2 separate regions of the Homo sapiens genome follow, and region 2 is linked to region 1. The links come from fine-mapping of genetic effects on gene expression. A gene starts in region 1. The other region holds a variant in brackets. All regions are shown on one strand. Distances are from middle to middle.

Region 1 (15,346 bases):
CCTAGAGGTCCCTTCACTCTTACTGACTCTGTAGCCATCCTCTAGTTTCTCTTGAACATTTCTGATGTGGGAAAGTTGAATTGTCAAACCCTAGTGTGGGTAGAAATGGGGAAAGAAAATCTGAGCAGTAGCACCTGGAGGGAAAGCAGCAGTTACATTTTAATAAGATAATTTCTAGGCCGGGCACAGTGGCTCACGCCTGTAATCCCAGCACTTTGGGAGGCTGAGGCAGGCAGATGACCTGAGGTCAGGAGTTCAAGACCAGCCTGGCTAACACGGTGAAACCCCATCTCTACAAAAATACAAAAGTTATCCAGGCATGATGGCGGGTGCCTGTAATCCCAGCTACTCGGGAGGCTGAGGCTGGAGAACTGCTTGAACCCGGGAGGCGGAGGTTGCAGTGAGCTGAGATCATGCCACTGCACTCCAGCCTGGAGAACAAGAGTGAGACTCCATCTCAAAAAAAAAGAAAAAAAATAGGCAGAATTAAAAGTGAATTGTGTGCAATTTAAGTGCTAAGAAGTAGCATCAACTGGATGTCATCCCTTTCATATTTTCATGAGTAACCTCATCCCAAAAAAGATTTCAGTCCAGGCTTCGTTAATATAATCATTGCTTAAAAAATTCTTTGGGCTCAAACTGGAGAAGGAGAGATTTTTTTCCTGTTGAATTCAGATGAAACTAGCATCTTGGAATGCTTGCTCTGGCAGGTACTGAGCCAGGTCCATTCACATTATCACTACCTCATGCAGTTTGCACAGCAATTTGCAGGGAGGGTGGTGTTATTCTCATTTTTACACATTTGAACATTGATGCTCAGAGCAGTTAAGTGACAAGCAGCAGTAAGTGTGGCATATTAATGGGAAAAAGTTTCCGAGATTGAATTCAAATGCCACTACCATCCACTAGCTCACAAAAGAAGAGCTTCCTGCAGAATGGCAGTAACAATTGTTGATCATTCCTTCACACCTGACCCCTCGCCTTTAAGAACTTGTCTATTTATAAGTAATTTAAGAAGCTATGTTTCTCTCCATCTGTTTAGGTAGAGAAGAGCATATAGAGGGAATTGTGAGTAAGCCAGATTAATGCACCAGAAAAAGTAGAAACTGCACCAGAAAAAGTAGAAACTGCACCAGAAAAAGTAGAAACTGTACCAAGAACAGGAAGGACGGATTGGCACCAGTGAATTCAAACAATAACCAGGTAGAAGATAAAAGAAGGTGTTGTCATGTGATGGATTATCCAAAATTCCCAGTGGGGAGGACTAGCTATCTGGACTCAATCATCTACTCTGTCTCCCAGAAAAGGGAGTCTCTGGTTGAGCCGCCTTTTTTTTTTTTTTTTTTTTGAGATGGAGTCTCACTCTGTCGCCCAGGCTGAAGTGCAGTGGCGCGATCTCGGCTCACTGCAACCTCCACCTCCCGGGTTCACACCATTCTGCTGCCTCAGCCTCCCGAGTAGCTGGGACTACAGGCAACCACCACCATGCCCGGCTAATTTTTTGTATTTTTAGTAGGGATGGGGTTTCACTGTGTTAGCCAGGATGATGGCTGAGCCTTCTGATTGTAATAGGACAGTAAGGAGATAAAATAAACTACATAGTCAAACAAGGTGAACCGTCTTAGAAGCAGAACCTGAAGGAACTGGGGAGCAGGAGAGGGAGGCACAGAGGAGCTGGAAGCTGAAAGGAAACAGGCAGGGGAAAGAATGTGTCTTTGAATTGCATATCAGCAAGGCTCTCCAGTGTGAGTGAGACTTGACCAGTTTGTAACTTCCCGTGTACGGAAATCCTTCTAACATGCAAATCTGACCCTTTCATTCTCCTGCTTAAACCTCTTCAGCATAAAGCCTACATTCTCCTACATGGTTGATGGAGGGCCCCAGGCTCTCCCTCTGGCCTCCTCCCTTCCATTCCTTCCCTCCTACTAGACGTTTCCACATTTACAGTTCTAGGAATCTGACATGCTCTCTCTTACCTCTGGGTATTTGTACATGCTCTGCAAGATGAAAACAGACTCATCTATTAGTAAATGCTTGAATGAATGAGTCAAATCGGAAGGTACTGGGGACAGTCCACCACCCCTTTTGGACTTTTCAGGTCTCAAGCAGTAGCCACCTCCAGTCTGATACAAAGGATTACTCCCTCCCCAGTGCCAGCTGGAGCCCCATCATGGTGAGGCTCTACAATGAGTTCATGGAGAAGACTGTGGATGGGTCATGGACAAGACTTCCAGGTTGTTGGTGCTCTGTGCAATTCCTTAAAGAAGCAGACCTTACTAAGATTGCTAAAGCTGTCCCTGGTATGTTGAAACCCCCTACACCAGTAGGGTTTAACTGGGCTTGCAGGGGTGCTCTAAATAATACAGAACTGTTGGCAAAACTTTGTTTATGCATATGCATTTTCCTCAGTGCAATCTGTGCCCCAGCCTATCTCCTATATCTCCTCTGTGGCTTGCATTAGCCTGAAAGTCAGGACCAAGGGAGTCTGGAGATCATGATCCCTGATTCATATGATATTAGCCCAGAAAAGGAACTTGGAGCCACTTAGTTCAAGGCCCTCATCTTACACGTGAGAAAGCTGAAGCCTAGAGAGGTGACAATGAGTTTTTGTCAGATATTGGACTAGCATCAGAAACTCCTGACTTTTAGTTCAGTGTTCTCTCCACTTCTATCCGAAGCCACTCCTGGCATCTCCTTATACTTTCCCACCACAGCTGGTCTCCTGTATAGACCAGACAGATGAAGCATACATGAGGAATTGGAAAGGGGCAGCGTCTGGGACCAAGGGCCAGTGCCTTCACCCTGGTACACCCAAGGCCAGTAGCTCAGTGACAATGCCAGTGGGACTATCAGGTAATTTACAGACACCTGAAGCCAGGACCCAGAACCTGTTGGGAACAGGACACGTGTTCCCTCTAGTGGCCAGTTTGAGCTGAGCTTCTGACTGGGTGAAAGAGAACAGATGGGAAAGAATGGCAGATGATGGAGTGCCACGCGTGTTAAGAAACAAAGGGGCCAGAGGGAAAGACTTCTAATTTACATACCTAATCTGTCATTAGAAATTCTGCTTTGAGATTTTTGGTAAAAATGCAGATGTTTGGTAAGTATTTGGAATTAAAAAAACATAGACACAGGGTCTTGCTCTGTCACCCAGGCTGGAGTGCAGTGGTGCAGTCATAGTTTGCTGCAGCCTTGAACTCCTGGGCTCAAGAGACTGTCCTGCCTCCACCTTCCGAGTAGCTGGGACTACAGGCTCATTCCACCACACCTGGCTACTGTTTTTATTTTTGTAGAGACAAGGTCTTGTTATGTTGCCCAGGCTGGTCTTGAACTCTTGGGCTCAAGAGATCCTGCTGTCTCGTCCTCCCAAAATGCTGGGATTACAAGCCGGAGCCACTGAATCTACCCTAAGTATTTAATTTTATATATGGGAGGCTTCACTCTTGACCTCTAATTAAGGCCCATAAACTGGCCAGGCGCAGTGGCTCACATCTGTAATCCCAGCAATTTGGGAGGCCGAGGCAGGCAATCACCTGAGGTAAGGAGTTTGAGACCAGCCTGGCCAACATGGTGAAACTCCATCTCTACTAAAAAAACAAAAATTAGCTGGGCGTGGTGATGTGCGCCTGTAATCCCAGCTACTCAGGAGGCTGAGGCAGGAGAATCACTTGAGCCCGGGAGGCGGCGGTTGCAGTGAGCTGAGATTACACCATTGCACTCCAGCCTGGGCAATAGCACAAGACTTATCTCAAAATAACAAACAAGAAAGTTGAGGTGAATACACAGCTAGCAGGTGACAAATCCAGGATCAAATACAGAATCAATGCCTGATTCCAAAGTCCACTTTCTTTTTACAGCATTACTCTGCCTCAGTGGTCTCTCAAAGACACACAGAAAAAAGCAGGAGATAGCCTCTACCCTTTAAGGAAGGGAAACAAGGTGTATTTGTCAGGGAAATATGTGTCCTGATTTTCTTTCATCCAGATTATGAAAGATAATCTCCTTTACTTAAAGTCAACTGATTACAGAGGTTAACCACATCTACAAAATACCTTCACAGCAACACCTGGATTAGTGTTTAATTGAAAACTGGGTATTATAGCCTAGCCAAGTTGACACATAAAACTGACTGTTACACAAGATGCTGCTTATAAATGAAGTCATTCTGTCCAAGATAAAGAAAAGCTGGCCTGGCATGGTGGCTCATGCCTGGAATCCCAGCACTTTGGGAGGCCAAAGTGGGCGGATCACCTGAGGTCGGGAGTTTGAGACCAGCCTGACCAACATTTTGCTAATTTTGCTAAATGCAAAATTAGCCAGGCGTGGTGGCGCATGCCTATAATCCCAGCTACTCAGGAGGCTAAAGCAGGAGAATTGCATGAACCCAGGAGGCGGAGGTTGTGGTGAGCCGGGATCGCAGCATTGCACTCCAGCCTGGACAACGAGAGTGAAACTCTGTCTCCAAAAAAAAAAAAAAAAAAACCTTCCACATATGGATAGAGCTATAAGCAAACCACAAAACCACAAGTGGGTCCTGCTTACCCCTGTGGGAAATTCAGATCAATCAGGACCTAGAAGATTTGTGACCAGAAAATATGTGCTTATGTTTATAAACTTTTAGCCAAAATGTTGCCCGTTTCCTCATTGTGAAGAAAGCAGGAAAACAAGAAGAGTTTGATTTTTTCCATAAGATGGGGAACTGCTTTGTCAAAATATTGATGGAGTGACTTGTGGCTTCCATATGACAAAACACAAAACACCACACTGCCTGGGCACGCACCATGGCTCCTCTCCCTTCCACTGCCCCTAACAACTTGGTCCTTGGAGTAGAATGTGAAGATCCCACTCCTGCAGGAACGCAGTCCACCCCACAGAGCCATCTGCCCCTCCCTCGGATACCAGCTTGTAAGCCGCTCTAACTCATTGTTCTCTCGTAGCCTGGTCACCCTTGGCTCAGGGGTGAGGTTACAGGCAATAGTCACTGGCACAGAAGGAAGAAAGGTGTTTCCTTCTTGTGAAGCCAAAAGCAGTGACAGGACCATCCTCTTTGTGGAAGTTTCTGGGTAAAGCCATTAGAATTCCCTTTTTTTCTGCAGTATTCACCCATTCTTGTGATCAGGCAAAGAGTGGCTTCCCCCACTGGTGAAGACAGTGCCCTTGGAGACTCTTAAGGCTTCTCTTTCAGGTTGTGCATGTTTAGGATGGGAGCAGATATTCAGATGGAGAGGAGCCTCCATTAGTTACAGGACGAAGACTATCATAAGATGCCCATTAGACCTGAGAGGCCAGTAGGCATAGAGAGACTGATGAAGATGGGCGGTAAGGGAGGTTGTAGCAGAGAGAATGCATGGTATCTCCCCTCTCAATCCCCTATTGGTTTCCAAAAGGCAAAGGCTGGCCTCATTGTTTTGGCATCAGTAGAAGAGAAAATTTAGATATTTCCAGAAGCAGCTCTGGCTCCAGGCAGGTAGAAAGATCTTGCTGAGCTGGTCTGCTGGAAACATGGAGGTGGGGGCAGTGATTTACCTGTGTGCTTTTCACCATTCCAGCCATCTTCTTACAAATGAAGTGACGCAGATGCAAGGTGCTGCAAGGCCCACCTCCTCCTGCTCTGACAGGCAGACAGGAAACCAAAGCCCCTATCTGAGCAGCCTCTGTCTCTCCCATTCACCTCCAGCTTCCCATGTGGACCTTTGCCTTTTCCTTCTTGGATGGTGGAAACTCCTCCAGATGTCAAGACTTGCTGTGAATAAAGTTTTAAGAGGAGGTCATGTATCCAAACTGATACATGTGTATTTCTTCCTGGGTAGAGGGTGTCTACAATCCTTGGGATGGGAAAACATCATGTAACCTGATCATACAATCCAGAAAACATGGGCCACTTTGGATCTTTGAGGGACCAGTGTGTAATTGAGGGAAGTTAGGTCATAAGAGCCAAATCACCTTCCCTTGACTGCAGATAAATCCATTAAGGCTTGCCTTATGCTAATGACCTTGTTTTGAATTAAAGTCACAATGTTTTCTTTTTAAAAAAAAAAATTCACTCCTCCAACTTTGCCATTAAGTACTGCTCCAAACCCCCCACTCATCTGCCAATGGGTGATGCTCTTTCCCCATGATCATTATATATCTCTGCATCCCCACAAACATCCAGGGGAGGAGATGTGGGAAAAGAAGGGCCTGTGGGCTTTAGAGTTATGAGTAAGCATGGCAGGAGCAGATACAGAGGAGGGAAATCTGCCAGCTGCCACCCTTGAAAGCCAGCCCATTTCTTCTGAGCCCACAGCCAAGCAGGCATACCTGGAAGGGTGAGGGAGTGGAGGGCCGGCTTTCACTCTAGATCCCACCTGTGTTCCCACACCCAGAGTGGCCAAGAGCAGTCTCTAAAATACGCCAACCCATGATTTCTCAAAAGTAGGGATTCTTGTCTTATGGAATCAGTGCAGCGGGGGTGGGTGTCAGGGTGGAATTAGGTCTTCCTTTAAAAAGAAGTTTCAGTGCATAGTTATCAACATCACTACTGCACAAAGAAAAATAAGCCTTGCAGCTTAGAACAAAGGGTAGCAAAGTATTCAATCACCAGGCAGGTTTGTAATTTTGTTTCGTTTTGTTTTTTGAGATGGAGTCTCGCTCTGTCGCCCAGGCTGCAGTGCAGTGGCACGATCTCGGCCCACTGCAAGCTCCACTTCCTGGGTTCACGCCATTCTCCTGCTTCAGCCTCCCGAGTAGCTGGGACTACAGGCGCCTGCCACCACACCCGGCTATATTTTTAGCAGAGACGGGATTTCACCATGTTAGCCAGGATGGTCTCGATCTCCTGACCTCGTGATCGGCTCGCCTCGGCCTCCCAAAGTGCTGGGATTACAGGCGTGAGCCACCGCACCCGGCCTGTAATTTTTTTTTTTTTTTTAATGTTTATACTTTCCTTAATCCTTTCTGGGAATAACCTCCTCTGGGACCACTTTCCTTCCTGTTCTATGTACCTCAGAAGCACAGGAATGAAGCCTGAAAAAATATTATCTTGCTCCCTAAGTCACTTTCCTTTCTGATCTAGTTCTTGGGTGATGAATGAAGGTGGAAAGTAGCGAAGGTTGCTATGAAAAGCTTGGACTTTATTACCAGGGCCACTGCATTTTCAACAGGAGTGTCAGGATCCCAGCAGTAATGCTTTTCCATGGATCAGCCAGACAGGCATAAGGGGAAGTTGGGAGACCAAAAAAGCCATTGACAGATTCCAGGTGAGCAATAAACCAGAATTTTGACCAACTAGACCAGCGCTGTCCTACAGAAATGTAATGGGAGCCACATGTTAAAGTTTAAATGTTTTACTAGCCACATTTAAAAAGAAACACATGAAGTTATTATTATTTGTTTTAGAGACGGGGTCTTGCTTTGTCGTCCACGCTGGTCTCCAACTCCTTGGCTCCCTCAAGCAATCCTCCAGACTAGGCCTCACAAAGTGCTGAGATTACAGGCCTGGGCCACTGCCCCCGGCCTGAAGTTAATTTTAATATTTCACCTAACCCAATATATCCAAAATATCATTTCAACATATAAAAATTATTGAGATTTTACCTCACCAGTCTTAGACATCCAGCGTGTGGTTTATGCATACAGTACATATCAATTCCACACTAAATTTTCAGCATTTAAAGGGAAATATGGTCCTGAAAAAAAAACAACAAAACAAAAAAACGCCTGTTTAAGGAGAAAGCATTCCACACTGCTTGTTTTAATATAATTAAAATTAATGTATCAATTAATAAATCAATAGCCCACGTTGGCTAGTGGCTGCCTTACTGGGCAGACCAGGTCTGGATTGTAAATACGTTCAGACGTTCCACGCAAAAGCAAAGTTCCCTGCAGACGCTCCATTAAGTTCTGGGTGCAAGGAAGCGCGGATCCTTCAGTTCTGGGCGTTTTCACCAGGTGGCACTCAGAACACCCTCACGTGACAAGCGTCCCACCCGGAAGCGAAATCTCCCCTTCTACAGAGTTCCTCCGGCGCTTCCTCCACCCCGGGATACACAGAACCTCATCTCCTACGGTGCTGAAGCCTGCAGCAGGGCAGGATGGGCAGGAGAGCAGAGCCGCGGAGTCTGCGGCGCGGGTGAAGAGCGGCGCGTAATTCCCGCAGCAAGATTGTTCCGCGCCCGCAGCCCCTGGACTAGCAGGATCCGAACCCCGGCGGCTGCGTGCTTATAGGCGCAGACGTCAGAGAGCCCGCGGCTTAAAGCGCGTCGCCTGGCTAGCGCCACCCCCTAGCCTTCTTCAAGGCCTCCAGGGCTGGGCCCAAGCGCCCGTCGACGGCACCCTGGGCCCAGAGGACTCGCGGGCCTCATCTCCAATGATTCAGAACTCACGTCCGTCGCTGCTGCAACCCCAAGATGTCGGAGACACGGTGGAAACGCTTATGGTGAGGGCACTGCGGGGAAGGAAGGGCAGGGGTCCGAACCGCGGGCTCGGGCCGGAGAATTCGGGGCGTTGCTAAGGCTCGGCTACCCTTTTCCGCGCCCCAGGGTGCGCTCAGGATTTAGGATGCGGCGGGAGAGGAGTCTGACTAAGGGAATTGAGAAGGGGGCAGGGAGTGAGGAGAGGCCAGGAGCTGCAGGCCAGCCCTGGGGGCAGGCGCTGTAGGGCCGATGTCCCGGTAAAGGGCGGAATTGCCGGGGCCTGGACTGGACGCGTGCCGGGGAGTGTGCCCGCGCGGCCCCCACAAGGTGCGAGTAGGCTGCCAGGTGGAAGGGCACCCGGGCAGATTTGGGACGGTCACAAGGCCTGATAATAGCGCTGACGCTGAGAAGCCGTTGATGCCGCAGCGAGCTGGCCGGGTAGCGCTGTGCGCCCGCGGGCGGCGGCCTACCTGGAGGGGCCAGTCGTGGCGGCACCCTTCCAGCCTGTTGGGACGGCGCGTGGTCCCCCAGCGACGCCACGCCTCCTCCGGCGTTCGATTGGTCATCGTGCCCGGGCCGCCGGGCCGCTATTGGTGGAGGCGGAGGCGGGGCTGGCGGCGTGGTTGCCCGGTAGGTGGAGTCGGGGTGCAACCAGTCTTTAGACGCTAAAGGCCTGAGGCCACTGCAGCTGCCGCAGCTCTCCCTCTGAGGTCTTGCGCCCGAGGTAGGGGCGGCTTTTATTTTTTTTTTTAATCCTTAAAGGCGGAGACGGCGGCGGTGGCGACTTTACGTTGACGTCTTTGAAAACCTGCTTACCTTTTTCAGGGCTCTCCAGCCCTCGCCTCCAGATGTGAATTGGACTTAGGATAGTTTTTTCAGGGCAGTAGGAATTGCTTGTGGATCCAGTTTGTACTCTTATGTGCTACTTATTTCGTGTGCGTATTATTGTTTATGCCCTCTTCTTTCTCCCCTTAAAAAGAAACTACTTTTTTATTTACCTTGAATATATTTTTGAGCTTTCTTTTCTTTTTTCTTTTTTTTTTTTTTTGAGACAGAGTCTCGCCCTGTCGCCCGCGCTGGAGTGCAGTGGCGTGATCTCGGCTCAACTGCAACCTCTGACTCCCGGGTTCAAGTATTTTTCCTGTCTCAGTCTCCCACGTTGCTGGGATTACAGGCGTGCGCCACCACGCCCGGCTAGTTTTTGTATTTTTAGTAGAGAGAGGGTTTCACCATGTTGGCCAGGCTGGTCTTGAACTCCTGACCTCAAGTGATCCGTCTGCCTCGGCCTCCTAAAGTGCTAGGATTACAAGTGTGAGCCACCGCGCTTGGCCTTGAGCTACTTTTTAAAAGTTAAGTTCACTCGCAAAGGATGTGTGCCATTCACCATTGACAAAAATCTTAAGACCATTCAGTATTACCTGTTGGGATGGTTTTTGTTGTTGTTGTTGTCTTGTTTTTGCCTATTAGAAGTTGATCTATACTGCTAGTATAAATAACATCTGCTCTGTGCTAATGGACTGGGAAAAGTACAAAGCTAAAAAAGTTATTGGCTCAATAACTTGAGCCAATAACATGTCTAATCACTGTGCTGTGAAATAAAAGACGTTAAGAAGATATTTCCTGCAATCAAGGGTGGGAAGGTCAAGGACAGCAGCAAATTTGTTTTAAAACAAATTCCACACAGCACCTGTGTGAGCACTGGGGAAGCAGCGCCTAACATAACTGCCCAGAAACTAACTGCAGGTCATTCCTATAGCCTTGCTGGAGCAAGGGGCCTGGAGAGAGGTGGGGGAGATTAACCCATCCTGGGATGAGTCATGCAGGGCCCACCGAGCCCTATCATGTGGGATTGTGCTCAAAGGGAGAGCATAAGGTTTCCTGTTAGGTGGTAAGATTCATTCCGCTGTCACTGCTGAACACCTACTGTGCACCAGGCTCCGAGGTCAGTTCTTGAGATATCACCATGAACAAGACAGGCAGGAGTTGTGACTATTCTGTCTTTGACACGCAGTCATAAGGGAGATGGGGACAGGTGTTGCTGTAGAAGCCGGAAGGAGAGGCACTGAACTTGGACATGGGGGAGTTAGGGAGCAAGACCGGTGCTAGGGCATAACAACATGTCAGAGTTTTCAGAGGTGAAAGTAAGGCGGAGTCCTCCAGTATGGCTGCAGAGTGTGTTAGTGGGAGGGTGAGAACATAGGCCAAAACGGTTAGCAGGAGCCCTGTGATACATGAAAGGCCCTGCAACCAGCAGTTTGGACTTTATCCTGAGAGGAATATGAACCAATTAAAGGGTATTGGTTTGGTTGGGTTTTTTAAAATTATAATTCAATTAGTATTAATGACAAATTTGTGGGATACTCTGTAGCTCCTAATACATTTGTCATTACTTGTATTTTTATTCCATCTTTTTTTTTGGTCTTGTTTTTAAGCTAGTAACTTCAAATTTCACAAAACATTATCTTTCATTGAAGGGTTTTATTTCTGAAAGCAGCATGATCAAATTTGCAGTTTTAAAAGATGACTCAGGCGGGGCATGGTGGCCCACACCTATAATGCTAACACTTTGGGAGGCAGAGGTGAGCAGATTGCTTGAGTCCAGGAGTTTGAGACCAGCCTGTGCAACATAGCGAAACCCCGTCTCTACAAAAAAATTAGCTGGGCACGGTGACACACACCTGTGGTCCCAGCTACTCGTGAGGCTGAGGTGGGAGGATCACCTGAGCCTGAGAGGTCATGGTTGGCAGTGAGCCATGATTGTGCCACTACACTCCAGCCTAGGCATCAGAGCAAGACCTTGTCTCTAAATAAATAATAAAACAGAAGATGACTATGGCTTCAGGGTAAAGAGTGGATTAGAGGGGTCATATAGATGACAAATGGGTAAAAAATTGGTGGCCGTCACCAAGGCAAGAGATAACAGGGTTCTCAGCTGGAATGGATTGGTGGATTTGAGAGCTGTTTTGGAGATAGAGTGAACAAGTGTGGAGAGGCCAAGTCCAAGGATGGTGCTCAGGTTTCTGGCTGGGGTGCTAGAGAAATGGCATGGCATTCACTGGGATGGGGCACCTTGGAGGAGGAGCTGGTCGGAGGTGTGGGAGAAAGGTAAGTTCAGGTTTGGAAACATCATCTGAGGTGGCCATCTGAGTACGTGGCTGTGTGAGACTGAGCTCCAGCGAGAGGCTGAGAGTGTGGAGGGGAGGGTGGAAATGGAACCCTTGGAAGTGGATGAAGAGCCATGGGAGTATGGTTCATTTAAGGGAGAGGCCAGAGAAGTGGGAGGAAACCCAGGACAGTATTAATCTCTGAAGCCAAAGGAAGAGAGCATTTCAAGGAGGGAGTGGTGGTGAATAGTGGAATGCACTGAGTGGCCTAAGTATCCTGGATTTTCACTTTAGACTGGGTGGTATGGTGAAAAGAGTATGAACTTTAAGTCCTGGCCAGTGGCTTCAACCCCTGTGACATAGGACACATTTGTAACCTCTGTGAGCTCCAGTTTAATCTGTAAAACGGGTTTAAAATACCTAGCTCATAAGATGCTATGAGATTTTGAGGTGGTGTCTATAGATGCCTCGCCCAGTGCTACTCTGGGAGCAGAGTGGAGGGTGGGTTGGCATAGTTGAGGCTGGAGACTGCTGCAGAGGTCATTAGGATGGATCAGTGGAGGCCAGACTGGGAAGATTGAGGGCTTGGTCAGTGGGACTTGGTCATGTAGCAGCAGGCATGGTGAGTTTTATGTGTCTCTGAGGTTTCCAACCTGGATTCCTGGAGTATCCCAGTGTGGATTGGAGAAGAGGCAAGTGTGTGGAGAACTGTTGACCAAGTTTCCATTTTGGACATGTTGAATTTGAGATGCCTGTGGGCCATTTGAGGGAAGACAAGGAGACATTAGCAGAGTCTGGGGAGAGGCCAGCCTGGGCTGGAGATGTGGGCATTACCAGCATGTGTGTGAAGCCTGGATATGGGTGAGGTTACTCTGAAAGGAGATAAGAGGAGCAGTCCTATGTGAAGGGCAGGCCAAAGAAGAGAAGGAGAGAGAAACCAGAAACTGTGAGGAGAGGCACTCAGCTATATGGCATGTACCAGAGAGGCCAAGTAAGATAAGGGCAGGGACAGGAACGGGGTCCTGGGGTGCAGCAGGTGCTTGGTGAGCCCTCAGAGGCTGTGTTAGTGGAGGAGATTTAGCTGGATAGCAAACTGGGGGGGCCTGCGGAGGGACTGGCACAGAGCAAGTGGAGATGGTGTAGCGTCAGGCTGGAAAGATGGATGCTTTGGAGCCTGTTGCCTGGCAGAAGAGGAGATGCCAGTGGGAGCGAGAGACCCAGTGTGTGAAGAAGGGGGGCTCATTAATGCCACAAAGTCTTGGGGAGAGACTAGAAACACAGAACTCATGAGAATATTGGTTGGCAGAAGAGCAGGACACCTCTTGGGGAGAGGGAGTTGATGTAGATACAGACTTGCTAAAATACGCACACCTTACTTGGTTTTACCTGTTGTCTTATCAGACCACCCTTTGGTACTTCAGAAGTTATTGCATCGTGGTTGTAAACTCCAGTTTTTAATGACCTTAGTTCCCCCCACCCCCTGCCTCCAACAGTCTTATGAGGAATTCCAGTTATAACTGGCTTCTTTGGTGGAATTTGAGATACACTCTCTTCTCTGTTAAGCAAATACTGCAGATTACAAATATTTCAGTTCCAGGTAAGTAGTTATGTGATGTGTAATGGAAACTTTATATATATTCATCTTAATGTTTTAGGGCCACAATGTGTCATTTATTTAAAAAATAATAGTGCAAATGCCACTTAATAAGGGAAGAGGTCTTTGGGGATGAATTTGCCAAACATTTTTGGAGAAGATAGCTATTTGTTTATTTATTTATTTATTTATTTTAGGGAAGGGGAAGAAGGTCACTGGTTGGATTTTAAGTACCTTTTCACAGTCATTTGTGATACTACTGGGTTCTAGGGGTCTGGAGAAAGGATGCTGTCCTGTAATGATAGCACCAGTGCTGGAAGCTGCAGCTCCTGGAACTAAGGGAGGTATATTTAGTCTTTGAAGGAGTTCCACCCTTCCAGGTGGTGTCTGTAGATTAGCCAGTGTATATGACGGTTCATGGGTTGAAGGAGAAGCAGCAAAGCCAGGGGAGGCTACTGGTCTGTAGGACTGTGTGATCTGCTTAGGGCCCAGTGAGATGGTAAGGGGAAAGTTTTAAATGAAGGAAATACTAGGTTCTACAGGAAGTGGCACTTACATTTTACACAGTGGTTGAGCTTAAGGTTTCATTTGCTTTGGCTTGGTCCTATAAATACCTATAGGTCTTAGAGCGAAGGGAGTCTGCACATCATCAGTTCAAAGTGAAAGCACTGCATTCAATTGACTTTGCTTTTGCAAAGATAGGGAGATGACCAGTAACTTTTTGAGTCAGAACAAATAGGGAAGAGTGGTCAGTGGCATGGAAATAGTTTTGCTCCCACTGAGCAATATGTCTATCAGCAATACGAAGACCAGAGATACCTCTTGCAGCATCCAATGTCCTCAATAACATTGCAGTATTTTTAATTTCTGGCTATACTTTTTCCTTCTCCGAGGTATGAAGAAAACATGAGGCACCACCAGGTAAGTGTCTAAGAGACCATTATAAAGGAATTTGCTGGTCAGGTATAGAGAAAGGTGAGGCTCACACAGGCAGAGCTACTGACACAATATTGTCTTATCCTGCAGTTACATCCGGTGATCAAGGCTTTCCTGTGTGGCTCCATCAGTGGGACCTGCTCTACCCTCCTTTTCCAACCTCTGGATCTCCTTAAAACACGCCTGCAAACCCTCCAGCCCTCAGATCATGGGTAGGCCCTGCATTTCATTGGGGAACTGATTTCAGCAACTTCTCAGACACAGGAACATCTTTACTGTGTTAAGTCAACTTCCATTCTGTTGGATGTTCAGAGAGAAACACAGGCCATGCCCAACTTTCATATGTTCTCTGAATTGTTTTTATATTTGACATTTCTTTTTAATTAAATGGGGTCCGTTCCTGAGCAGCTTCCTGGAATCGGCTCAGTGACATTTACACTTTATTGTGTTAGCTTGTGATGTTATAACTGTATTGCCTGGCATGAGAGTACCAGGGGATTTTCTGGAAATAACATCAGTATTATCTGTTTTTGTTTTTGTTTTATTTGTTTTTTGAGGCAGATGCTCGCTCTGTTGCCCAGATTGGAGTGCAGAGGTGCGATCTCAGCTCACTGCAACCTCTGCCTCCCAGGTTCAAGGGATTCTCCTGCCTCAGCCTCCCAGGTAGCTGGGATTGCAGGTGCTCGCCACCATACCCAGCTAATTTTTGTAATTTTGGTAGAGATGGGGTTTCGCCATGTTGGCCAGGCTGGTCTCAAACTTCTGGCCTCGAGTGATCTGCCCACCTCAGCCTTCCAAAGTGCTGAGATTACAGGCATGAGCCACTGCACCCAGCCTCTATTGTCTGTTTTGTGTGTGCCAACCTACGAACACATAGAGTATCTCCAAGGTGCATTGTAGAGATTGTTAAGTGTCCTAAAAATGAGTCTATAAAGGAAGTGTTTGAGTGGGGAATTGTTTTATGAGGAAGTGATCTAAGTGATTTTTTCCTTCCTGTCTCCATTTTGTCTGCTTTCAGGTCTAGACGTGTTGGGATGTTGGCTGTACTCTTGAAGGTGGTTCGCACGGAGAGTCTTTTGGGCCTTTGGAAAGGGATGTCCCCTGTAAGCTGCCATCTGGGTCTAGGTTCCCTAGCATCCACTCCTTAATAACCAGCTATTTCTCATCTACCTTACCAGCTCTTAAGGATATGTGAGAGTCAGAAGTGGTGGGAGTACCTATGTGGTCTTATCTCTCATACTACAACTAACTTCTGTTTGAAGGCTCAGGGATATGTTGCATTTGCACATTATGCTTAGATGTGATTTATTAGTGCAGCA
Region 2 (15,346 bases), 140 kb after region 1:
AAAAATCATTTTCCAAGTTTAAAATTTTTTTCTTCCAGCTGATGCCTTGCTGACACTTCATTATTTGGCTTAGACTATAAATGGCATCTTTTTTTTTTTTTTTTTTCCAATTCTTGTTAATGTGGGTTTTGGCATTGTCTGATGACCCTAACTTTTCATCTTTTTACCATGGTAATCTGCCAGTTGACTCTTTATTTTCAAATCATCTAGTTCATTTCCTTTTCTATGCGTTTTCTCCTCTGACTCAAAGATCAAGTGCTTTCAGCTGTCTAGTATATTTATTCATTACTACAACTGCATTATTTTCCTAAACCGCAGCTTCTTTCTGAGACTTGAGATCTTATCTGATTTGCTCACTGCCTCAGTAGGTAGGGGCTGGGGCAGGAGCAGTTAGGGGCAGAAAGAGACCACAGCCTTCTATTTACTGCAGCCTCCCCATGCCCCTCCAAACAATCTGTACTGCCACCTCTTTCTCTTCTTCTAACTCCTATCTTCCATCTCTTTCTTCACCTCAATGCGTACATCTCTGATCATGACATCTGTTTTTTTTTTTTTTTTTACAACTTAAATTTAAACCAAGAAGATCTTGGTTTATAGATTTGTAGCAGAGCTACTTAACAACCTTTCCATATTCTTATTGCTCTGGACTTTATACCCTCTTCACTGCTTTCTCTCTCCAGATCTTGTCCCTGGCTGCTAACTCTGATTTTTCCCAAACCAGCTCTGCTCTGACTTATGCAGTTTCCCACCATCAAGCCACCAGCAATGACCCCTGATAAGTGTGCTGACCCATAGCCAAGTGCATTCTGTCTCCAAGTCTCTCTAATTCCCAAATGGCCTGATGACACAGTTACATTAGATTATGTTGGATAAGTTCTATCACTGCTGAATCTGCTTCCTTAACTTGTGTTCACCTACAATTTTAACTTACTATTGCTTGCATTGTTTTTAAGTCTTCAAAAGTCCTCAGTCTACTTGAACACAGCTTCTCTTGTGACACTTTTCCTCTTCTGGTCTAAGTTTCTTTTTGGTGAGCTCTTGGGGTCCTAATAAGAGAATTTCTGCAGTCCAGAGAAGGAGGAGGGAACATCTGGTACCAAAGTACCAAATGTGTTCATGAGTGTGTGTGTGTGTGTGTGTATGTGTGTGTGTGTGTATGAGAGAGAGAGAGAGAGAGACAGAGAGAGAGAGAAGAGAGAGACAGAGGAAAAGAGATTGGTCTTCCCTTTTTACTTTTTGTAGCTTTCTTCTTTCTACCGCTTCTTGTGTTTTGGGAAAGGTGGGTTTCCTCCCTTCAATTCCGTATGTCTCCTTGCTCAAAAATCATGCTGACAGGAGGTCATGGCTCCTGATACAGTAAACCTCAGGATGGTCTTTGCCCATGCAAGAGGTTTGGCTGGCAATTCACGTTAATTTCTTCTCCCTTCTGACTTGAAAAACTCAAGTTGTCTGTGAAAATGAAAAAACTTTAGTGTACATATCTCACCCAACAAGGCTTTATAAAGCTGCTTCTTAAGGCAGCTCTATATTCTTTTTTTTTTTTCTTTTTGACAGAGTCTTGCTCTGTTACTCAGGCTGGAGTGCAGTGGCACAATCTCGGCTCACTGCAACAACCTCTGCCTCCCAGGCTCAAGCAATTCTCATGCCTCAGCTCCCGAGGAGCTGGGATTATGGGTGTGTGCCACCACACCCAGCGAATTTTTTGTATTTTTAGTAGAGACAGGGATTCACCATGTTAGCCAGGTTCGCCTTGAACTCCTGGCCTCAAGTTAATCCTCCCGCCTCAGCCTCCCAAAGTGCTGGGATTATAGGTGTGAGCCACAATGCCTGGCCAGACAGCTGTATATTCTAAACATTAAAGCCACCATTAGGATAGAACTAATTTAGAACAATGTTATATAGTGACTTTCTCATACAGGGAATGCAACAGCCAGTTTTGTTATACCAGGACATTTTTTATACAGGGGAAAAATCAGGCTTGTGTGTGTATGTGAATATAGAATTTATTTTGTCTTAAAATCTGAGCCCCCGTTTAAAGTTTTTTAAGGGACTAACCAACTTTTGCTCTTCACTCTTAATGCTTTTTCTTTTGGAGCCCCTTTCATGGAACCCTGCAGCACTAAACACTTTTATATTTGTAATATATTTAAAAGATAAAAATGAAAGTGTCTGCTCCTAAATTCATGGGCAAGTCTACTCATCACAAGTGTTGCTGGCCAACAGGGTTAATATTTGCTGACTGGGTAAAAAATGAAACAGTATTAAAGATAAAGTCATTTAGGGTTTTACTGAGTATGTAAAGACTCAAAAATGAAAATGTCCGACTAAAAAGCAGAGTGTCCGAACCATAACTTTTGATGCCAAAACTCATGCAACTACCTCAGAGGACAGGTGAGCACACCTAAGTGTATAATACCGTCTTCTCCTCTTATGCTACTATCTCTTCCACCCACATGGGGCTTGATACCAAGAATCACAGGTACATTGCGCATAACCTGTGTTGACAAGTGCTCATTTTAATTGGTTGATGGTCTTGTGGTGGTGAGTGGGTATGGGAGGAGGGTGGGTCTGGACTAAAGGTATGGAATCAGGCTAGCTCTCACATTCTCACCAGAAATAGGAGTTGACCACAGCAGCTATTGCTTCTCCATCACTGGGAGAGGTGGTATGTAAGGTGGTTCAGAGAAAGCAACCTGGAAACAGACATCCCTCTAGTGGAATTCCTGTTTGAAGGTTATTACTTGTGTGATCTTGGACAAGGGAATGAAGGTCTCTAAGCTTCATTTTACAAGTGAAGACAAATTAAAAACAAACACATTAAGCAATTAGCATAAAGCTTGCATGTAGATAGAGCTCATACAGTAAAACAAAAAAAGTTGCTTATTCACATGTTCATAGCACTATTCACTATTTGCATTTGCTCTTATACTTATTTGTGTACTTGATTATTACTTGTCTCCACCACTAGAATGTAAACCTCATAAGAGCAAGAACCATGGCTTTACACCTTGATGTTGTCCCTCATTTCTCCCCCCAATTATTTGATATGGACAACTGTTGTTTTCTGGAATGTATGGAAACAGTCTTGAAACCATGGCCTTAAATCCCCCTCTGATCTACTTTTTAAGCCATCATGCTATTGATTTGGCAGAGTATGGACTTGGCTTACTTTCTACTCTGCTACAACAAACAGACTTTGCCTAGAAATGTCCCATTTTTGTAATTCATTTAAAAAAGATAATTATAATAGTAAGAAAAGTCATTATTATCAAAGTAAATATCTCATTCTCTTTCTTAAGATGTACACAGTATCAACTTTTACACAAAAGGTTCCGTATACTGTAAGATTTGCAGTAAGTTGCTGACCCCTGTCCTAAAACTTTCAGGTTGGTTTTGCCCTCCAGCTCAATCAGTTATTCAATAATTTCATCTGTGATTTAGGCAAAAATATGACTTTCTTCCTAGTGGGAAATAAAGCACTTGAAGGGCTGCAGCCAGAGACCCTGTGCTAGCCTAGGACCAAGTGCAAACTAATGCCATCCATTTAGAGCAAAAGAAATAGGCAGAGTCCTTCCTCTGTGACCAGTGAATTTTGGATGCACTGCAGTCTTCTGCCTTCATTATTCAGAGTATCTAGAAGTAGATGACACAATGTCAGATCTTCCACAAGAACCCTTGCCACTATTCCACAGAGTAACTCTCATGATCAAGGTGCCTGGTCCTACTTAAGCTAACAAAAAATTGCTTTCACAAAACAATCAACTAATCAAAAATCCTTGGATGTTACAAATCATTTTTCCTCTGCCCTGAGCAATATTTCTATGGGTATTTCTATATAGGATTATCTACAGTTAATATTTATAAAGTAAGATTTCATTGGAGTATATTCGCCTCTCAGTATAATCTGATACATATCTTGATTTTTTCTTTTATAATATTGCTCTTTTATTATTCTTGATCATTGACATTGCCATATAAATGGTAGAATCAACTTGTAAATTTCTACCAAAATGCCAGTTGGAATTTCTATCAGAATTGCATTGGATCTGGAGATCAATTTATGAAGAACTGACTTTTTAAACATAACAACTCTTCTGATCCATGACAAGGTTTATCTCCCCACTAATTTAATTCTTTCATAATTTCTTTTTTTTATTTTTAAAAGAAATCATCTGATTTGTAAACATACACTCAATTTCTTGATATTTCTTCTTAACTTATGGCCTAAATCTTGATTATTTTGCTTAATTTTAATACCTTCCCATAAGAGCAAATTTAGTAAATTAATACACCTTCCAGTTGTTGGCATTTTGAGAGTATTGGCTCAAAGAAAGTGTCAGGAAAATGGGCAAGAACACTGCAATCTTGGAAAAGACATGGAGTTATGTAACAAAAACTGGGCTGAGACATGGTTTTATTTCTCACTAGCTGTGTGAGTTTGGGAAAGTCATTTAACCCATCTGTGCCTCAGTTTCTTAATTAATGACTGACTTGCCTCCCCCACAGCGCAATTGTACAAACCGAGGGAAATGAAAGTTTTAATTTATCCCTGCAGCATCCTGATGGCTAAGAAAAAAATTATAATCTAAAGGTTTAGCACACCTAGATGGAAATATGTTTTCTGAGGGAATATCATAAAGAGAGGGAGGGGCTGGGATTGCCACCCTTCAGACACCTCTCACCCTCTTGGTCAAGGAGCAGTATCCATTTGTGAAGAAAGGAGGGAGGCCAATTGGGGATGCACAGATACAACCACTGGGGGAATAACTGTGGGTTGAACAGCTGCATATAGAATTGTAGTTTGACAGGTTTTCCTGCCCATTAGTACTTTGAAGATGTCATCCCATTGTCTTCTGACCTCTATAATTGCCACTGAGAGATCTGCTGTCAGTCTGCTTATCCTTCCACGGTAAGTAAATTGTGTTTTCTCCTTGTTGCTTTTAAGATTTTCCTCTTTGTCTTTGGTGTTCTGAAGTTTCACTATAATGTCACTAAGTACAGATTTATTTTTATTTATTCTCTTCAGGACTCAAGTTTCTTCAATCTGAAGATACATGTCTTTCTCCAGGGACATGTGGAAAAAAAAAAGATGTTATACAACCATCAAAGTGGCAAAAATAAAAAAAATCAAGTATTGGCAAAGATGTGGGGAAAATTCTCATAAGCTACTGATGAGAATTTATAAATTATTATGACACCTTTGGGTTGCAATCTGGGGATACTGGCAAAGCAGAAAATTGTACAACCTGTGATCAAGCAATAATAATTTTAGGCACCCATCCTAGAGAAAACTTGAATTCATAGAAAAAGTAGGTACACGTAAATCTGTTCAAGGAATCATTGTTTGGCATTGAAAATAGGAGAGAGATCATGAGAAATTACCAAAATGTCCACCAATAGAATGAGTGAATCACCTGTGGTATATTTATAAATAAAAATATTAAATAGAAGGTAAAACAAATCAGACATACACACATTAGATAGATAAATTTAGAGGACAAAATAAGGAACATGAAAAGCAAATAGTAGATGGCAAATGTAATATAATATACTATGCATAAATTTTAACAACACACAATATTATATTGCATATTGCCCAATAAGCAGAAGCCATAAGGTCTCACACTTTTCTTATAATGCAATAGAATAAAAATGACAACAAAGTAAAAGGGTATCCCAAAAATAAAACTATCCTTTTGGAAAAAAAAAGATTTAAAATAATTCCTGGTTTGAAGAAATAACAAATTAAAAGCTATATATAAACGGTTAACAATATTAGGTGGACATATTTGTTTGAAGAGATAGGTGAAAGATAGTTGAAAAGCCTGGGGGTATATTCAAGGTTATATGTCTTAGAAAACAAAAATACTTGTTTGGGTTCAGTTTTGGATCTGGGCTTGTTCTTGTGGCTTCTGATGATTTCTGACTTGGGGAAAAATGGGGAAGAGTTGAAATACGTCCTTCCACCCAAACCTTTGTTTAGTAATAGGTAGGAAAATGAAGAAGAAAATAGAATGTTGCAGAATGTGGAGGGATGTAAAATGGACAGTACTAGGGTAGAGGGGAAGTCAGATTAGAGGAAAGAAAGAGCATCAGGAACAGTCTTGTGCTAGGAGCTGGTGTGGCCAAGCACAGTCGGATGCCCAAAGATCCAACAAGGCCATGGCTCTGTGTCCTTGAGTGGGCACAACCATTCCTAGCCAAGTTTAAGAGGCAAGTAAAAATATAGGGGCAATGTCAGATGAAGTCTTGTTCAGGGTATGGGGCTAGGATGAGAGAGAATGCCACAGAGTATGAAGGAAGAGTGATAGATCCAGATGAGATACAGCTCAGAGTGCCACGCCCCCAGAAAGAGGAATCAGGCAAGTACTGTCCCAAGGCAGCTGGAGGGTGAGGGCTGAGTGCCCTGGCTTCCTCACTTGGGGAGACCATGGGTCTCTGTAGAAATTCCAATATAAAGGCAGGGAA[A/G]TTTGACTGCATGGAGTCTTCAGGTAGAAATGTTTCTCTTGCCTAAATTCAGGTGCTAAATAAACAACAAAATGGTAACCTCTACTATGAAGTGTTTCCAATGATGGGATATCTGAGGCCATTACATTCCTGGGAATAACATGGTGAGGTGCAGGGTGGTGGTGGTGGTGAAACATACGACAGACCACTGTAAGTGAGAACAAATTACTGGCCCAGCCCAACCCACACCAAATAAGAAATTTAATATCCCTTTGGCCTGTTTTAGATTTTGGCAAAGCCAGGCCCATAGTGCTTGCTGGGCTCTCTCTTCCACATCATCCAGAAGACACACATTTGCTATGGAATGATTGTGGAGGTGAGAGTATAGTGCATATTAATTCATGCAAAAAGTTAGATATTAGCCCAGAAATGTTAGTAACAAGAAACTACTGAATTCTCTGTTTGTCTGTTGTGGAAATAAAACCTTCTGGGGATGAATCAAAACTATCTGACAATTACTTGAAATGGGTGAATAGCTAAATGTAATGTGCCTTGGATATTATAACTAAAAGGTGCTATAATCCAGTTATATTTTTTATCTTTTAAGGATTGGTTCTGAGGAGCACTACCAGTAAATATTGCAAAAATTACATAAAGCTCCAAAAGCTACTCTGTGTAAACTTCTTGAGTGGGAATTCTCAACCATAATATCTGGAATATGACTGATAATTCTGGATGTTAACTGATTTTATGTTCTGATGTTTTGACTGGTTTTGGGAAAAATTTTGGGAAAAAAGAGTTTTCCTCGTAAATACCCAACAACTGGGTCTCTGGGTAAAAAGGCCTAATTTATAGAGATTGCTAATTTCCATGGTGTAAATATTTCCACAATGCAGATTCCTTCCTTCCTTTTTTTTTTTTTTTTTTTTGAGATGGAGTTTCACTCTTGTTACCCAGACTGGAGTGCAAAGGTGCGACCTTGGCTCACTGCAATCTTCACCTCCCGGGTTCAAGCCATTCTCCTGCCTCAGCCTCCCAAGTAGCTGGGATTACAGGTGCCCACGACCATGCCTGGCTAATTTTGTATTTTTAGTAGAGATAGGGATTCACCATGTTGGCCAGGCTGGTCTCAACCTCTGGACCTCAGGTGATCCACCCGCCTCGGCCTCCTAAAGTGCTGGAGATTACAGGCATGAGCCACCACGCCCGGACCATGATGCAGATTTCAAGCTATGAACATGATTCTCTGGAGTTTACCATTTGTCTTTTAATTGGCAAATTTGATGCAGAATTGGGAAGAGAAGCACACAATTGACTCTCGTCAGCTGGCACAAGCTGGTGCCAGTGCACCACTGTATATATCCATGGCCCTCTGTGAAGCTAGAGTTTACTACTAAAATTTGTGCTCCATAAATATACAAAGGCACTAGTAAGAGAAAAAATATAAAGAGAATATAAACTAAATTCAAATTAGGGAGCTCAAATGGAGAAAATTGACAGATAATATTTTTGAAACTTTGAAAAGTAGTATTTGTCTAGATTCACCTTTTATTACCTTTTCCTTTTTTTCTTTTCCTTTTTTTTTTTTTTTTGAGACGGAGTTTCTCTCTTGTTACCCAGGCTGGAGTGCAATGGCACGCAATCTCAGCTCATTGCAACCTCGGCTCACTGTAACCTTCACCTTCCGTGTTCAAATGATTCTCCTGCCTCAGCCTTCCGAGTAGCTGGGATTACAGGCACCCACCACCATGCCCAGCTAATTCTTTGTATTTTTAGTGGAGATGGGGTTTCACCATGTTGGCCAGGCTGGTCTTGAACCCCTGACCTCAGGTGATCCACCCACCTGGGCCTCCCAAAGTGCTGGGATTACAGGCATGAGCCACCGCGCCCGGCCTGTTATTATCTTTTATTAAGCAAACAGCGTATCTATGTATCATACTGAGTGTTCTGAGCTGTTAGTTTCTTTGGTGTTCATCTAGATGGAAGCTGGGGCTTCCTTCCTTTCAGATATTGGTGCTAACATGAAGCTGACCAAAGAATTGATGGGATCTGCACACTGTAAAGCCGGTTTCAGGATGGCTGAGCTGACGGTCAAGAAAGAAGAGAAGATATGAGCCGCCTGCATTTTGGGGTGGTGGCAGTGAAATTTAGACTTGTGATTTGGTATGACAATATATGGCTTTTTGTGATTGTTAACATTAATGAAAACAAGAAAAATTAGTTGCTCAAAAGTTGAAAAATGGATTCATAAACTTTTTATTAGAGTAAGGCAAAAGAACATATTAAAATAGAGGTAAATTAGAAATGTCAATAAGAACCCATGGACATTTTTTATAAGGAGACTTTATCTGTTCTGTCCCTACAGTGATTTATGCTCTTGGATATTTTTGCTGTCATCCTGACAAATTCTAGTTGGAATATGGAACAAGCTTATTTGTAGACCTAGTGCCTGTGGCTTCTAAAGCAATTTTCTGAAAAGAGAAACCACTGCCTGTTGGAAGAATAGTTGATTCCATACCTCAAGCTAGGGAAAAAAAATCAGAATTAGTCTGTGAATTCTAGATGTTGAGAGAAAGCAGGGTTTCATTAGGGCATCGGAGAGTCACAAGTCCATAGGATGCAAAAAGGAAGATGAAATAAAATTGCCTGAAAAACGCACCTGAATTTCTGGCATTGTTTACTGAAAAGGCTGTGTATTGATGAACCCCAATTATGTGAGGTCTACATTTAAGAGTTTATAATCAACAGTTTGAAAATGCAGGGTGTTGTTTCTTTCTATAAGGAGACAAAACAGTCAGAAGGGAGTGTCACAGGACATTATCACAAAATCAAAGTTCTCCATGAAATGTGGTTCATTTGCTAGAAAATAATGCAAGCCTATTGGAGAGAATCAGGGCTTCTAGTGATGCTAGGGATGACCTTAAGCATTGTTTGTAAATCACACTTTTTCCTAGTCTTTCAGCAGCAGCTGCACAGAGTAGGCCTGCTTCTTCCCATGAAAGCCACACTGAGTTTTATCAACTAGTAGTGTGTGGGCACTATTGCAAGTTATGTTGTGTTGTTTATGGCCATTTATCCAACAGTGCTTTCCTCTGTGCGGGGCTCTGCAGCCTCGTTCTATGTTATTTTTATTACCACGTGTCTGTGCGCCTCAGGTGGCAAAGCAGAATCAGCTTCTCTACCCTCAGCAGGGCTCACTATGACTCACTATAAGGGAAGAAAATCTTACAGATGTCAGAAAATGTTAGGTAAGTGGACAGTGATAAACACAAAACAGCAAGTGGTCAGTATCAAAGAGAAAAACAGTATGTTGGTGAAGGAGAAGTATCAAAGCTAGTTAAAAAAGTAACAGGAGAAATGTAAAGGGACAATACTCCACAAAAATTTAGATTGTAACTGAGCTTCTTCTCCTAAAGAGATTTAAAAATAAAGTATAGGAAATACATGAAGAAACAAAGTAAAATGCCAAGGTGTAAGTTTGACCATGAATATCTAGGGAAAAACATACTTGCACTAAAACAACCAAATATGCAAAAATCAAGTGGAAAAACAGGTCAAAATAATGCCAGTTGATGTCTGTAAGAACTAAATGTATAATAAAATGAGCAAAAAAAATGGCCAGTTTAACACCAATTGGTGCCCATAATAACATGTTTATTTGCAAAGTCTGTATTTTACACACACACTATGGTTTACACAAAATTTGAAGGAAACCAACTAACAACAGGTCTGTCATCAACACAGGTTAGCACAGCACTGAACATGTGCAACTAGGAGGTCAAATCACTTTCCCCGAAGGAGGTGGCAGGAGGAACCTGGTGTTAGCAAGAAGTGGGCAGCACTGTGGGATGGTCCAGAGGACAGCGTGATGGAAGTGGGAACTGGGTGGGATCAAGCGAGGAACACAGGAAGCAGGGCTTTGGTGTTGTATACGTGCATAAATCCTGAATGGGTGTGTGAGAGATCAGAGCCCTGCCATGGTCAGTGTTGCCTCGCTGAGTCACTTCGCTCTTCTCTCGCATGTCACTGGGACAACGCACCCTGGGGCTTAGGAGCTAAAATGGGTTCGCAGCAATCAAGACAGCCTCCTTCTCCAAACAAACTGCTCTCCTTGCTCATAATATCTATGAAGAAAAGATGAGACCCTTGGAGAGAGGGTGAAAAGGGAGGCTGTCAACATAGGAGCATCTGTCCTTTACTGGCTCTTTAAATAACTGCAGGTAACTTGTGGGGATTTGGGACATTCTGCTCTGGACACCATTGAAAACCTATTGCCTGGATGTATGTAAAAAATCCTGGATGTATGTAAAAAATCCAGAAGGTTCTATCTTTAGATCTTCAGTAAACAGGAGTGACAGGGGCCTGGATGAGACAAGAGACTTGTCTTGCCTTTGCAGACAGTGAATGTCAGCTTGAGGAGAAGAAAAGGGGGACTTCAATGATAATTACTGGGGTGTGTTGGTTTGTTGGCCTCATTGTGAATGCCTGAAAACAACTTAGGGGTATTTTGAGGAGTTCAAATTCCTCTCTTCACAGGTTGGGGACTTGAAGTCAATTTCTATAGTCACAGGCAGGTGAGTTTATAGTCAAAATCATGTTCCATATACAATTCACTCATTCCTGCTACTCACTCTTCTATCTCCCTGGCTTTGCTTCCTTACTCAGATGTCAAGGATTTCTATCATGTAGCTTTTTGATGCTGCTTTACTTCTTCCTGTCTCTTGCTATCACTATCTGAACCTTATGGCACCCATAAGGTTCCTGGGGACATAAGGTGTCTCTGGGGACAAGGGGATAATGCTGAGGAAATGGGAGACAAGGACTCAGGGGAGTAGTCCCTAAAGCACAACAGTTCTGAGAGCGTCCCAACTGGATGGAGCGTACACTTGTTCACAGGCTCCTAAAGGTGCTTGACCGCACCAGAGCAAACTCACCATGCAATGGACATCATTGTTAAGTGTTCAGGCACAACCACCAATGCTTCCAATTGTTGTTGTAGAAAAAACTGAATTGTTCTCATCCAGTCACTTACCCATCACCACAGATCCTTAAATACCATTTTCCCACTTCCATTGACATGTGTTAAAGATTTACTTTGTTATGTGCTGTTAGGTATTTTATAAGACAACATGTTATCTTATTTACCCATAATGCAATAATAGCTTACAGATGAGAAAAAAATAAGGTTTAGAGACCTACCTAAAAGTGACACAGCTGATGTTCAGAGCACTTGAGATTCTGACACCTATGCAAACTCTACTTCTCATCCCTCATTTCCTAGTAAATCTTGAATTGAAACTGCCTGGTGTTCCCCTGCAGGGCTGGCAGGTCTTGAGGCGCCCTTCCTAACGGATGAGTGGCTCCTGCTGTTGCTGCCCTCTCCCGCGTGTGAGTGGCCAGGATGCTTCTATGTGTTGTCTGGCCAGTGTTGGCCACTTGGTGAGTCACAGAGGCTTGTAGAGAAAGTGGCATAATGCAGCTACTCCACATTTGGACCCTTCAAATCCAGGCAGAACAAGACCAAATGTCATAGGCCACAGCTTGATGGAATCTCTGAATTGAGCAAAACGCTGGTTCTCAACCTTTTCTGGTCAGGTTTCGGCTTGTGCTGGATCCTGATTCCCCCCAGATTTACTCCATCATCCTTCTCATTCAGCTTAATAAAATGTGGTCACCATTTACTGAGTGTTTACTATGTGCCAGACACTGAAGCCCTTCAGATGTTTAATTTTGACAACATTTTCAGATATATAGCTTTATTATCTAAATTTTGTAGAAGAAATAAATCAGCTCCAAGCCATTAATAAGTGGCCCAAGATTTCAAAATTAGTACGAAATGTGGCAGGGATTTGAACCAGCAGCCCGAGTCACTGGCTTTCTTGACTTGCGTATTGACCTGCTGTCCCCTGGGGTTCTTGATTTTGCCACCTTGTCTGACTCCAGACATTGAGCACACCTCTTCTTCCTTGTGTCAACTTAATGACTCACAGGCATTGTGGGTTACTCAATTTCCAGCTACAGTTTTGTGTTTTTTGAACTGATGATATCATTCAGCCAGACATTTCCTGACTTGGAAGTTTCCTGATCCCATTGGCAACACCACCCAAATGTTCTGAGCTTAATCCTTTGGAAAATAAATGGACTCCTTGTTCCCACTGAGACCTACTCCTATGTTGAAACATAGGTTTCAACTCCTATGTTGAAAACCAGGGCTAACTAATTTCTAAAGCCAGACAGGGCCTAAATTGCTATTTTTTGGGTCAATGTCTATCTATACTATTTCCTACCTGTTAAAAGACCTGTAGAAATGCACCTATATAAAATATAGGTTTATTGTTCTTTGTGTCAATGGCATGTATTATTTTGGCTATTCTAGAAAAGAAATTACGTTGGAATTCCAATGTAAACATGTTTGTGTGAATCAGTAACCTTCTCTTTCTTTTGTATGTCATAAGAAAGCAACAAATGAGTTGTTAAATGCTAAAATTAAACACCATTTTAGCAAAATTAAAGACAGATAAGATGTAAGTTTCCAAAAATTAGGGCTGCCAGAAACAATTAAAATAAGCTCAGGAGCTGCTTGGGTGAAGTGAATAGAAAGATGGACTGTTGGCAGTGGATTTCAGAAATATATTTTCTGTAGAAAAAGAAACACTGTGGTGTCCTCCTGCAGGGCCAGCAGGTCTTAAGGTGCCCTTAGGAGCTGAAGGATCTGGGAAGACAGTGGAGATTGAGTTGAAACTATGAGGGGGTGGGAGAGAGAAAGCAATGAAAATGCATGGTGAAGAGCAAGCAATGACAAACCTCAGAAAACACCAAAATGAACATACAAAAAAACTTAAAATAACAAAGATATCCATCACTTGCACACAGACAGTTGGGAAAATCCAACTAATTCAGTGCTGAGAAAATGAAAGGTAGCTGACCAAGCATCAGTGGAAAGGTATAATTTAAAAAGTCAGCAAAACCTATCAGATGAAGAATACCAGAAAATCTTTGTATCCCAATACTTTGCCATGAGTTAAAAAAAAAAGAGAAACCCTTAAGAAATCAATTGCCACTATGAAGGAAGATTACCAAGCAGAAATGAAAGGACCCAAGGCAGGAGACAAAATGTGAGCTGTCCAAAACAAACAAAAAATAAAAAGCAATACCTCAGTACAAAGCAACCCAGCAACACCCTCATTTATCTTTTAATTGGTACATTTGATCAGTTAATATTTCTAAGAGTTCTGACCAGGGTCAAAACTACCTCAGGCAACCCCAAAGATGGAGGGACGGTAGACCCACTTTAACCCTACCCTTCCCACAAGCCTTCTAAAGAAGAAAATATGCAAAAAGTAAACAGACCACAAGCTTCAAAATTTAAAAAGGAGAGAGCTTATATGTTTAATAATAACAGAGCAAAGGCCAATTACATTTGTTATATTATTAAGTGTAAATGGATTCAATTAACCTATTAAATGAAAAAGATTTTCAAATTGGATCACAAAGCAAACTGTACACAAGAGAAACATCTAGAGCAGAGTGACTCACAAAGACTAAAAATAAAAGAATGGGCAAAGTGTATCTGAAAAATAACCCCATTCACACGCACACAAAAGACAAGGAAGGTCACAATCTTAATATCAAACAAGAATATTAGTTAATGCCAAAAACTATGAAATGAGACTAGTGCTCTTTATATAACGCTGGTATGCAATTGATACAAAGGTAATGAATATCTGTGCACAAATAACACAACACCAACATTTATTATACAGAAATTACAGGATATGAAAGAAAATAAAGATCAAAATACAGTAGTACTAGGCAAAAAAGCAAAGAGGTAGAAGTCTTAATAACAAAAGTAGTAAGATAGATGTGATGGACATTTATGAATCTATTATCCCTGTGAATATAAGTGACAATGGTAGATTTGAGAAAATGACCATATATTAGCCCTCAAATAAAACCTTAATAAATTCCACAATGAAAAAAAAAAGAAGGAAACAAAGAAGAAATTAATAATAACAATGAAACTCAAAAGGATCTTTTCCCCTGGGTATTAGAAACATCACCATCACCATCACTTCTCTTTAAGCAACTTTTTTTTTTGTTAAAGAGGAAATACAAACCAAAATTATAATATTCAGAGAAAATGAAAACACAACAAATCATAAGGAATATAGCTAAGCTGTGTTGAGATGAAAGTTAAAAGCCTTAAGTTCTTGTGTTAGTCTGCTTGTGTTGCTGTAAAGGAATACCTGAGACTGGATAATTTATAAAGAAAAGAGGTTTATTTGGCTCATGGTTGTGCAGGCTGTACAGGAAGCATAGGGCTGGCATCTGCTTCTGGGAAGGCCTCAGGAAACTTCCAATCATGGCAGAAGGCAAAGGGGAGCCAGGGTATCATTTGGTGAGAGAGGGAGCAAGAGAGAGATGCCAGATCTTTCAAACCAGATCTAGTGCTAACTCATAGAGTGAGAACTCACTCATTAGTGCAGGAAGGCACCAACCCATTTATGAGGGGCTCACCCCTGTGGCCCAAACACCTTCCAGGGATCACTTTTCAATATGAGATCTGGAGGGGAGATATCATTCGAACCACACCGGTTCTCATATCAATGAAAAAATAAATAGTGAAAGTACACGAAATAAGCACCCCACTGAAAATGTTAAAAAAAACAGCAAAATAATCCAAAGAAATAAAGAAGAAAAGAAAAATGAATATGAAAACAAGTTTATGAAGTAGAAAAGAGAAAACTTAATAAATCTGAAAGTTTATCTCTTATTTTTTTCAAACCCAGATCTTTGATTCCATCTTGCAAAGTACCACACTGTTCTCTGGAGCAGCCTCTGAGAGAGGCTGTTTCTACTGAGGAAGGAGAAAGTTTGCCACAGCTGTGAGTGGAGGGCA

Evidence for each region. PIP is the estimated chance that this variant, and not a neighbour inherited with it, causes the effect.
Region 2: its variant is fine-mapped to the expression of SLC25A38 in lung (GTEx, PIP 0.98). The same link has a PIP of 0.9 or more in prefrontal cortex.

The regions. Positions count from the first base shown.
Region 1 is chr3:39,375,378-39,390,723 of GRCh38, forward strand. It overlaps SLC25A38 (solute carrier family 25 member 38), which reads left to right and starts at 7,993. Exons shown (of 7, transcript NM_017875.4): 1 at 7,993-8,416; 2 at 14,118-14,239; 3 at 15,046-15,130. The coding sequence starts at 8,348. LOC105377037 (a long non-coding RNA gene) reads left to right here and starts at 1,135. Exons shown (of 3, transcript XR_001740661.3): 1 at 1,135-1,203; 2 at 2,099-2,300; 3 at 5,550-5,775. It overlaps LOC105377644 (a long non-coding RNA gene), which reads right to left and starts at 8,948. Exons shown (of 3, transcript XR_007096252.1): 1 at 8,864-8,948; 2 at 7,576-7,667; 3 at 4,054-5,743. RefSeq lists silencers at 2,825-2,874, 8,892-9,041 and enhancers at 8,302-8,481, 8,502-8,601, 8,612-8,661, 9,132-9,201.
Region 2 is chr3:39,519,418-39,534,763 of GRCh38, forward strand. It overlaps a transcript of MOBP not described here. Among named protein-coding and RNA genes, the nearest start is that of MOBP, 59 kb to the left of the region's middle. The variant A/G (reference allele first, on the strand shown) is at 6,469.